3 linked regions of the Homo sapiens genome follow. The protein of the gene in region 1 purifies or fractionates together with the protein of each later gene. This does not show direct contact. Each region holds a gene or a part of one and is shown on either strand. Other genes may lie near its edges. The genes, in order: TUBGCP5, ASPM and MZT2A.

The links.
Region 2: the proteins of TUBGCP5 (region 1) and ASPM purify together in Homo sapiens (affinity purification with mass spectrometry; 3 studies listed by BioGRID and IntAct, with this or other methods). This does not show direct contact.
Region 3: the proteins of TUBGCP5 (region 1) and MZT2A purify together in Homo sapiens (affinity purification with mass spectrometry; 3 studies listed by BioGRID and IntAct, with this or other methods). This does not show direct contact.

Annotation. Positions count from the first base shown.
Region 1 is NC_000015.10:23,018,971-23,022,619, forward strand, and holds part of TUBGCP5 (gamma-tubulin complex component 5), read right to left. Parts: intron 3,192-3,649; coding exon 2,989-3,191; intron 411-2,988; coding exon of another isoform or gene 365-410; coding exon 249-364; intron 1-248. UniProt on the Homo sapiens protein: Component of the gamma-tubulin ring complex (gTuRC) which mediates microtubule nucleation.
Region 2 is NC_000001.11:197,098,059-197,101,707, forward strand, and holds part of ASPM (abnormal spindle-like microcephaly-associated protein), read right to left. Parts: coding exon 2,373-3,649; intron 1-2,372. UniProt on the Homo sapiens protein: Involved in mitotic spindle regulation and coordination of mitotic processes.
Region 3 is NC_000002.12:131,490,235-131,493,983, forward strand, and holds the start of MZT2A (mitotic-spindle organizing protein 2A), read right to left. Parts: upstream 2,164-3,749; 5' UTR 2,143-2,163; coding exon 1,973-2,142; intron 1,791-1,972; coding exon 1,642-1,790; intron 1,003-1,641; exon of another isoform or gene 926-1,002; intron 659-925; coding exon of another isoform or gene 479-658; intron 1-478. UniProt on the Homo sapiens protein: Required for the recruitment and the assembly of the gamma-tubulin ring complex (gTuRC) at the centrosome.

The sequences.
Region 1 (3,649 bases):
TCCAAAAATATAATTTGCTTAAGAAAAGTTGCGGACTGACAAAACTTGGACAAAGATATTTCTAATCAGCTGGTATTACTGATGCCTTCCGTAAAAATGAGATAGAACTTGCCTATGATGACGACAAGTTCTGTGATGTGAACTGTGCTTTCTCAGTACTGTCTGAAACTAACGAAAGCATTTGATTTTCATGGGGAGGAAACTGGTGATGCCAGCCCCCAGTGACCTTGTGCTCTGCTGCAGCTCACCTCTGGATGATGAACTCCCTGGCGCCATCCCACAGGTGCCCGTGCACGATCCACTCGTCCACCGTCTGCAGGTAAGGCCGCACCGTTTCCACCCAGAGAGAGAAAAGGAGGGAGACCTGAGGCAGAGAGTGTGCACGGTCAGCTCTCAGGGTTCCCTGGTCACTAGGATAAAAGGAGGTTTAAACATTTCTGAAATGCCTTTAAAAAAGTGATCGGATTTCTATGTTTTTTGGGGCACAAAGAAATTAAAAATCCAAAAACATACACTATAAAATCCTTATGAAAAACTCACCTAAATGCCGGGCGTGGTGGCTCACGCCTGTGATCCCAGCACTTTGGGAGACCGAGGTGGGCGGATCACCTGAGGTAAGAAATCGAGACCATCCTGGCCAACATGGTGAAACCCCCTCTCTACTAAAAATACAAAAATTAGCTGGGCATGGTGACACGCGCCTGTAGTCCTGGCTACTTGGGAGGCTGAGGGAGGAGAATTGCTTGAATCTGGCAGGTGGAGGCTGCAATGAGCCAAGATCGTGCCACTACACTCCAGCCTGGCAACAGAGTGACACTGTCTCAAAACAAAAAGAAAAAAAAAAGAAAAAAGAAAAACTCACCTAAATATGGGATGATCATATTGTTTGTAGTCCAGACTGGGAAACTTGAGAGTGAAAGTGACACAGAGGCAGCAGGTGTATCCTGAGATAGCCCAGGCAAGCGAACAAGGTTTCCCTATCTAAATCCTATTACTAGCAAAGCATCCATTAAGGATGAGGAAATTGGCTGGGCATGGTGGCTCACGCCTGTAACCCCAGCACTTTGGGAGGCTGAGGTGGGCAGATCACAAGGGCAGGAGTTTGAGACCAGCCTGGCCAATATGGTGAAACCCCATCTCTATTAAAAAAAAATACAGCTGGGTGTGGTGGCTCATGCCTGTAATCCCAGCACTTTGGAAGGCCGAGGTAGGCGGATCAGGAGGTCAGGAGCTCGAGACCAGCCTGGCCAACATGGTGAAACCCCATCTCTATTAAAAATACAAAAATTAGATGGGCATGGTGGTGGGCGCCTGTAATCCCAGGTACTCAGGAGGCTAAGGCAGGAGAATAGTTTGAACCCAGGAGGCAGAGGTTGCAGTGAGCCAAGATCATGACACTGCACTCCAGCCTGGGCGACAGGGCGAGACTCCATCTCAAACAAAAAACAAAAAAAAACCCCAAAAAATTAGCCGGGCATGGTGATGTGCGCCTGTAGTCCCAGCTACTCAGGGGGCTGAGGCAGAAGAATCACTTGAACCTGGGAGGTGGAGGTTGCAGTGAGCCAAGATCGTGCGACTGCACTCCAGCCTGGCAACAGAGCAAGACTACGTCTCAAAAAAAAAAAAAAAAAAAAAAGAAAAAAAGAAATATGGTATTAAATTGGTGTGAAAAAAAGTTATACCAACAAACTAGAAAATACACCTAATGTACATACCCAACTAAGACTGTAGCATTCTAAATTACAGCCTCTAGTTAGATTTTTATTTTTAAATCTATATATTGTTTGAGACAGGGTCTTGCTCTGTTACCCAAGCTGGAGTGCAGTGGCACAAACATGGCTCACTGCAGCCTTGACCTTCCACACTCAAGCCATCTTCCTGCCTTAGCCTCTCGAGTACCTGGGACCATAGGCATGTGCCTCCAGAGCTGGCTACCTTTTTTGAGACAGAGTCTTGCTCTGTTGCCCAGGCTGGAGTGTAGTGGTGCGATCTCGGCTCACTGCATCCTCCCGGGTTCAAGCAATTCTCCTGCCTCAGCCTCCTGAGTAGCTGGGATGACAGGTGTTCGCCACCACACTAGGCTAATGTTTGTATTTTTAGTAGAGACGGGGTTTCACCATGTTGGCCAGGCTGGTCTCGAATTCCTGGTGTCAGCACACCTGGCTACTTTAAAAATTTTTTGTAGAGACAGGGTCTCAGTATGTTGCCCGGGCTGGTCTCAAATTCCTGGGCTCAAGTGATCCTCTCACCTCAGACTCATATGTAGCTGGGACTACAGGCGTGAGCCACTATGCATGGCCTAGATTTGTATTTTTTAAAATACAATATAAAATATATAACATAAAATTTATCTTAACTGTATATTTTAAAAAATTTTAATTTAACTAATTTTTTAAAGACAGAGTCTTACTATGTTGCCCAGGCAAGTCTCAAACTCCTGGGCTCAATCAATCCTCCTGCCTCGGCCTCCCAAAGTGTTGGGATTACAGGCACGAGCCACTGTGCCTGACCCTCAGCATTTTTAAGTTCAGAGGTTTTAAGTACATTCATATCGTTGTGACAAATCTCCAGAACTTTTTCATGTTATAAAACTGAAACTCTGTACCCATTAAACAACAGCTCCCCATTCCCCAGCCCTTGGTAACCAGCATTCCACTTTGTTTCTGTGGATGTGTCTACTTCAGCTATCTCATGTCATGTTAGTTACATGTTAGTGTTTATGTAAGAAAGCGTTATTGTAAATATCTATACACATCAGGTAGGTACTTCTCACAGCTTGCCTTGTCCTTGCCTCATCCTTCTGAGGATCTTGGCAATTAGAGCTGAAAAGCCAGTTTCCTACAGCCTTAAATTTGGAAGTTAATTTAAAAACTCTGAACTGTCTGACGAGTCATCATTCAAGTATCAACAAAGAACTACCATCAGCTGTCTATCACTCCTCTGCTGTGCAGCATGGAGTCACACACTTTAGGCAGAAGTCTCACTTACGGTTTGCTCAGAGGCTTCTCCAACATTGTCATATTCAAGAATGGCCTTGTACAGGGTGTTAAGCAGGTGAGAGGCCCGGACGACATTTCGAGTATCAGGTGGAACTTCTGCTACTCCAGTACTAAACACTTTGTGCAGAACCTTGAGCTGAGACAATCGAGGTGCCAACTTGTCCACCACTATTGCAAGAGTTATTGTAGTATCTGCAAATATCAATAAATCAAACTCAACAGCAAGGAAAAATACATGCATCTAAAATGTGACATAAATGCTGGCAAATCATCAGGCTTATGGACAGGCAGGGCAAAATGGAGGACGGTGGATTTTAATCTCATACCACAAGGACCTAATTTCCCTAAGGAAGAACTCCTGCAAGTCACAGAGAAAAAGACAACTCAGCAGAAAAATAATGTATAAAGGAACTGACAGTTCATAAAAAAGGAATGATGAGTGATTCTAAAACATACAGAAAGTCACTTGACCTTACTTATAATAAAAGAACGCAAATTAAAATTACACTAGGTAAAACAAAACACCTCCCAATGGGCTAATGTTACAGAGAGGGGTGAGGGAGGCTGTGCCTACAAAGGGCTGCACAAGCAAGCTCCTGGGAGGCGATGGCACAGCTGTGATCTGAACATGGAAGTGGCTATGTGGAGCT
Region 2 (3,649 bases), on another chromosome or scaffold:
CATTGACAAGAGAAGCCAACATAGCGTTAAGAGGGAAAGAAGACAGCTAAGAGATTATGGTATCAAGAAACCAAGGGTTGAGAGAAGAAACAAAGTGTGCTTAAATCCCAAATGCTACAGAGAAGTTGATATATATATATATATAAAACATACATATTTACATATATATGTAAGTATTTAGTAATGTATACTATATCCCAGTGGCTCCCAAACTTCGCTGCTCATTAGAGTCACCTGGGAGCTTTGAAACAAATCCCACGCTTGTGTTGCTTCCCATACCAATTAGAATATCTAAAGGTAGGAGTATGTTTTAAAATTCCAGGTGACTCCAATATGCAGTAAAGTTTTAGACCACTGGCATAGGCTAAAAATTATATGTGTAAAATACAATTTTATTATGTAATTATGTAAGAGAAAAAAATTTTTATAAGATTGTTATTTTGGCTATTTAATCATTTTAAGTGAATAAAACCATAACTAATACATCCAATGAACACCTTTCAATTGTGAACTTCTCAGTAGTGTTAGGAATTTGATACCATAATCTCTTACCTTTCTTCTTTCCCTCTTAACACCTTGGTTTCTTGATACCATTAATCTCTTACCTTTCTTCTTTCCCTCTTAACACCTTGTTGGCTTCTCTTGTCAATGTCTGTGAATTTTGATGTTCTTCAGGGCTCAAGTCCCAGGCCCTCTTTGTTCACTCATTTTATGTATTGTTCCTTGGTGATCTCATTATTCCCAGAACTTTAATTATTAGCATATGCCCATAATGTACAAATCAAATTCTAATACTCACACTACTCTCCTGAACTCCAGACAAACATAGTCAACTGCCTTACTAGATATTTCAAGGGGGTTACCTGCTAGGTACTTCAGATCTTATATACTCCAAACTGAATTCATCATCAATCTCAAAACCTGCTCTTCCCTCTTTATTCCCTATGTCAGGGTGTGAGGGAGTAACTCTGCTGAGTTACTTAAGCCATCAACATGGCTTGCCTCCTTGTTCATGCTCTATATAATGCCAACTTACAATCCCATTGTCACAAACCTACACTGAACTATAACTCTTTCTCACCTGGCTTACTGCCTATTTTCATTTGGTCTACCTGATTCTAGTCTTGCTCCTTTTCCAGTCCATCTTCCACATTCCTGCCAGAGTAATTTTTTTTTTTTTTTTAATAAAAATGACTGTGGTCTTCTCCTGCTTAAACTCCTCTAGAATTTGTTTTGTCTGGAGCATAAAGACTAAATTTTTTCTGTCTTAAAAATCTATCCACAATCTTACTCCCTCTATTGCCAACCTGGTCCCATATCACTTTTTATTGTTTCTAGTTTTTTGATTTTTCCACGTTATCTCTTGCAATTGGAATATTCTTCTATACCTTTTACTGGGCTATTTCTAATTCATACTTCAGTGTAACATTTCAACTTAAATGTTACTCACTCTGGGAAGTCTCTGACCATGGAGACTAGCTTGATTTCCCATTCTGTGTTTCCTGAAACATACACTTCTCATGTTGTATTATAATTATACTTCCTTGTTCAATTAAGTTCCTTGAGGACAGCAACTAAGTATATCTTACTCATTGTCTATTTATAACACCCACTACAGCATTTGGCACATTTCTAGCACTTGACATTTCTTGAATTAAAACATTATTTCTAAATTTAACAGTAATCCAGTAAGATATGAACATATCACATCTGGGTTAAAGCCTGGGTTATTGCAGGTAAAAAGAAATAGCTGAAGTACTTAGATTCAGTTCCTGGATCTGCCTCTCTCTATGCAACATTGGCCAAATTACTTAAACTTTATCACTTCCTTCATATTTTAAAAGAGATAATACTGTACATTCCTCACACATTTGGCAAATAGACAAAACAAAATAATACAAAATTGATTTGGAAGCCAAAGTACTAAACACTCAGAATAAAGTATGTCTACTAGCCTAAGCAGCAAACAGCTCTGGTTAATAGATTATTAGAGGAACAAAGTTACTCTATTTTGCCTATATTATGCCAAATAATACTTTATCTTAGCTTATATTTTCCACTTAAAGAAATAACTTTGCCAAATACAGGACTCCTATTTTCTCAAAATTCTTCTAAGAGTGCTACAATTAACCCATACTGAAATGCACCACACATAGGGTGACCATGGCCAGAACAATCCCCGTTCTGTGCTGTCTTGGCTGACTTACTAGTGCCCTTTCCCTCTTTCAAAAATGTTCCACTTTGGAAGATAAATGGTCACCTCAACTAAGTACTATTCTTTATGACCTGCTTAAGCTCATTTTATACATTCTAACAAATATTGGTCAAAAGAAAGACTCACAGTTTTATATTTAAATTAAATATAGAAATACCTGAATTTTTATGGTGCTATTTTTAATTTCCTGAAACTTCCGTTTCTGTATAAATCCTTTACTTCTAGCTTGAATAATGATAACACTGCTTCTGATCTGTAAATAGACTTGTCTTTGATGTTTTGCAGACAGAAATGCTCTGTAGTGATTTTGTAAAACCACTGCTGCTTTTCTATATAGTAAAAACTGTTTTCTGGTTTGCCACGTCCTAAAATAATGCTGTAAAGTGATAGCAGCTCTTTTCTGCTGAACAAATCTTCTCCGATACACAGCCATCTGAAGGAAGAACTGAATCCGTAGGGCAGCACATTTCTGTGTTTCCAGTTTTCTTGTGACCATTCTACAAAAAGCTTTTTGAATTGTTACTGCAGCCCTACTTTGAGAATGATACTCTGCTTCCTGTGAACAAGCAAGGCCAGAAGCTTTATACCACTCTTGAATCATAACACCTTCACTTTGAACAGCTTCATACTGAGTTTTACTTCTGTAACAGCAGAGTGCAGATTGGTTAACAATGGCTGCCATCTTTTCCTCTGATACATTTTTCAATTTTTGTCTAACTTTCATGCCTCTAAAAGCAGCCTGAATAGTTCGTACAGATTTCTGAACTGCTAAAAAGTTTTTTCTTTCTGTTTTTACTCTAACATACAACCTATAATAATTCTGTATAACCACAATTGCAGTTTTCTTTGTTTCATAATCAACTTTGGCCCTGTGCATTCGATAGAATGACTGAATTAGTGTGGCAGCCCGGTGCATATTTTGAATATCCTTTCGTACTTTAAAGCCTCTGTAATAAGACTGTATACAAATAACTGCTTGGGTACGCACTGCAGTTAGTTTTCTGTATCTTCTTTGAATAGAAACTACTGTTGCTCTAAGGTGGAGATAATGCTTCCTTATTTTAAAGGCTTTACAATGCTTCTGAATAATAATGGCAGCCTGGTGCTGTTCCTGAATCTGTTTTTTTATGTTCATGTCCTGAAAACCTGCCTGAACACAAGTCTCTTTCTTAAGTTCATTGTGTTGAAATACTTTCTGTTTCTTTTTATTTGCTCTATATTTTTCTTGTATGATTTTTGTAGCCCACTGAAGCTTTTGGTAGAAACAATACTGCCTATACATTCTGTAGGTGCTTTGTATTACGATAGAAGCTTTGTGTTTTTCCCTTAAAAGTTGTCTTGCTTTCATTCCTTTATATGCAGCCTGAATAACCACAGCAGAATGCCATTGTCTGATATAATTTTCTCTTTGTAATTTTGCAGCTCTATATGTTC
Region 3 (3,749 bases), on another chromosome or scaffold:
CTGGAGTGTGGCCATGGGACCAGCACATGGCATCTGTGTGGCACTGCCTGGCAGACTCTGGGAAGGTGGGAGTCTCTGTTTCAGCCTCCAGACTTCCTGTCCAGGTAGGGGACAACTTCTAAGAGGCCGAGGCGTTTGTCACGCCTGGGGCTGTGCTCTCCAGCAGAGCACACTGCACCCGGCTGGCTGTCTTCCCCTGGAGAGGGGCTCTTTACACTCACCACTAGTTCGCCTCTGGGGTGTGGGGATGTTGGTCCTGTCCCCGGATGCCAGCCCGACTGTGGGGTCTAGAGACTGCCACACCATGTCTCTAATAAACCGAGTCAGAAATAGTGCCCTGTGGCTAAGCGGCAGGGCAGCGGTGGCCTGCATGATCCTGCCCTTGCAGCTCAAAGCTGCTTGGGCCTCTTGGGGCCATGCAGTTTCCATGAAAACAAGGAAGAGCACCAACCCCCAGAGATAAGCCAATAAACGCAACCTGCAAAAGGAGAGAACAGGCAGCAAGAGAGGCGGAGGGAACCCGGGGGGCCTGGAGAGAGAGGTGAGTGTGTGGCAGCTGGGCTGTGGAGCATAACCAGAGAGGCCGCAGGCTGCGGGCTGGAGGAAAACGAGGGCCTTGCAGGGGGGCTACTGTTCCTGGCAGAGAGAAAGGAGGCCTCTGGAGGTCAGAGAGAGACACAAAGAGAGCAGACAGAGCGAGGGTCAGTGAAGAGGCCAGCACGCAGGTGCCCGGGCCCTCTTGGGTCAGCGGGCGTGGGTGCCCAGGCCCTGGCACTTCCCCCATGAAGGCAGCCTGCTTTCCACGCCTTCTCATGATGCCTGTGAGGGTCTCCTCCTGCTTCCAGGCAGGGAGCCAGCTCTGGGCCTCCTTCCATTGGCCTGGGAGGTTGTGCTGCATTTCAGAGAGAGCCATCGGGAGCAGAAGCAACATGCGGAGAGGATGAGCAGGGACGGAGGCTCCACCATGACACTCTCAGTCCCAGCATCTCCTCAGCCCAGTCACCACACTGGAGAGGGAGGAGGCCCTTCAGACCCCGCAGGCCTCTGCACCCTGGGAGTTCCGCGTCTAACTCTCTTCCTGCAATCATCAGAGGCAGGAACTGGGCCCAGGTGGGGTAAAGGCAGGAAGACGTCTGCCTGCCCTGCTCCCTGGGCACTTCCCTGGATGCTGTATACCACAGGACAGAGATCGAGACTGTCTTTTGAAAAACATTTAGAGACAGGATCTCACCCTGTCACCCAGACTGGTCTCAAACTCATGGCCTCAAAGGATCCTCCCGCCGTGGGGTCCCAAAGATTATAGGCGTGAGCCACGGCGCCCAGCCCCAAACCGTCTTGATTCCCGACTTTGTAGGATGAAGGCCTGAGTGAAGAGGTGGGGAGGAGCTAAGCGGAGGAGCCCTACCCAGCCTGGACCACCCTGGGGCACGCACTCTGCGTCCACCTGACCTGGACGTGCCTCCTAAGGCTGGCAGCGAAGCCCAGGAGCAGAGCCCACGGATGGGCCCTGCAGGTGCTGGGCCTAGACCGACCGACAGACAGGCCTGGCCACTCAGGGCCACGCCGCCGCTGTGCCGCGCCTGCCCCCTCCCCGCCCGCCACCCCCGCCACTGGGGCAGGGACAGCGGGCCCAGCTCTGACCTCGGGTCTCGGGCACGCTCGACGTGGGCAGAGACACGGCCGCAGGGTCCTGGGGCTCGCTCGCTAGCCTCTGCCCGGCACACATGGACTTGAGCATCTGGAAGACGGCGAGGGGGGCCACGTTCAGCTTCAGCAGGTCCACCAGGATCCTGGCGGGGACAGACGCGGGGCCGGTGAGCCCTCTCCGCCCGGCGCGGCCACCTCCCTGAAGACCGGACAAGGACGGGGGCGGGGGCAGCGGGGGCTCCTCCCGACCAGCGGGCCGGGCGTACCCGGAGAGCAGAGGTCGGGGGTGTCTGGCGAGCATGCGGCCCCCACCCGCCCCGCTCACTTGAACACGTCGGGGTCGATACCGCCGCCCGCCGCCTGAGCCAGCTCGTACAGCTCCATCTCCTCGGTGCTCAGCACCTTCTTGCGCCGCAGCGCCAGCTTCTGCCGGGCCGCCTCCAGCCCCGGGGGCGCCGCCGACCCCGGCCCAGGCCCTACGCCCTGCGCCGCCATCCGCGAGGCCCGCCGAAAGGTGCGCCCCGCCCCGCCGCGCCCCCTAGCGGATGCGCCCACCGCCCTCTCCCTGCAGCGCCAGCGTCTGGCCTCCCGGGCTGCCCTGGCGGGAGCGGCGGGAGCGCGGGGACGGGGCCGCCTCCTCGGCGTCATTGGAGCCCAACAGTTAGTGGGCGCTCACGGTGTGCTGAGCGGCGCGCTAGGCGTCGGGAGTGGCATGGCGGACTGCAGGGGCCAGCTGCTTGGCGGTCAGGGCGTCCCTGATAGACTTGCATTGGTCGTGCTCGCTTAGGTGGCAGCACCCAGCCCAGTGCCAGGCATACATTGGGCGCTCAGTCAATACCTGTTTCAAGAAAGCGTGCAATTTTCTGGTCCGCACCGGTGCACCACTAGGGGTCGCTCTTCGGGGGGGGTGGGGGGCACTAATCAACAACCCTGCTTACGCGCACGCGCATTCCTTGCTAGGGAGAAAGTGCGTGAGCCCTACCTTGGGGCGCCAGAGGCCGCCACAACGCAGGCGCATTCAGCTAAGGACCACTCCCTCCCCCCGCACTCCTGCCTCGCCATTTCCCCTCCCTGGCCGGCCGGCCGGCCTTCTTCGCTTTGCGCACGTACCTTTTGAGGTAACGGCCCAAAGAGGTAGAAGCGCTTTTCCCGCCCGGCCGCGGGGCGTGGCTCTGCGCGCAGCTTGATGACGACGTTTTGGCGCGGTGGCGGAATGGCGGCTTCCACCTCTGAAGCGGGCGACGCTATGGGTCCCACAGGTGAGTGGCGCGGGACGCGCGCGTGAGACGGTCCGACGCCCTGGGGGCTTCCGCGAGCCCCTGCGGAGGCCATCTCCGTTCCTCCGCGAGCCCCAGGACTCGGGCGGCCCGGCGGCTCTGCCCAGGCCGGGCAGGCTGGGGAGTGGAGGGCCCCGGCTGAGTCTTCCTGCCACTCCTCTGGGCCATGCCTTTGTGCCACCTTCCCGCGCCGCTCGTACACTCTGTTCTGGTCCGGTAGGTGTTCGTTGAAGGTTACCCGTCGTTGAAGGAATTGAGGGAAGGAGAGCTTTGTGTTGAAATTGAGCCTTGGGCTCAACAGGCGGTGTGGGAGGAAGAGCCGGGTGTGGGTCCCAGCTCGACCCTTCCCCTGTGCGCTCCACATCTCCGAGCCTTGGTTTCGGAGGCTCCCGAAGCCCAATTCGCAGGAGAGTTGGAAACAAGTGGGCGCGTGCTGTTAAGGGAGGTCTTGGCATGACAGAATTTGCTTGGAATGATTAGCGTTGCCCAAGGGCTGTCGCTGTCAGAAAAACAAAACAAAACGAAACAAAAAAAACAAACGGGTCCGAAGCAGCTCCTGGAGAAAATAGGTGTTGGAGAGTCGCGACGAAGTGGACTCTAGGTGCATGGCACGCAGAGACCTGTGACGGGGGAGGGTGGCCATGGCAGGGTCAGAGAACAGGGGTGTGGGAGACACCTCTTGGGAGTTCTCGGGTTTGAATTTCCTCTCTTGGAAAGTTCCTAGAAATTCCTCTGGGCCTCATTCTTTCAGTCGCTGCCCATGAAAGCTTTTACTGAGCAGAGATGCTCTCCCCTTCATCATCTCTAGAGCTCCGCACTTATCCA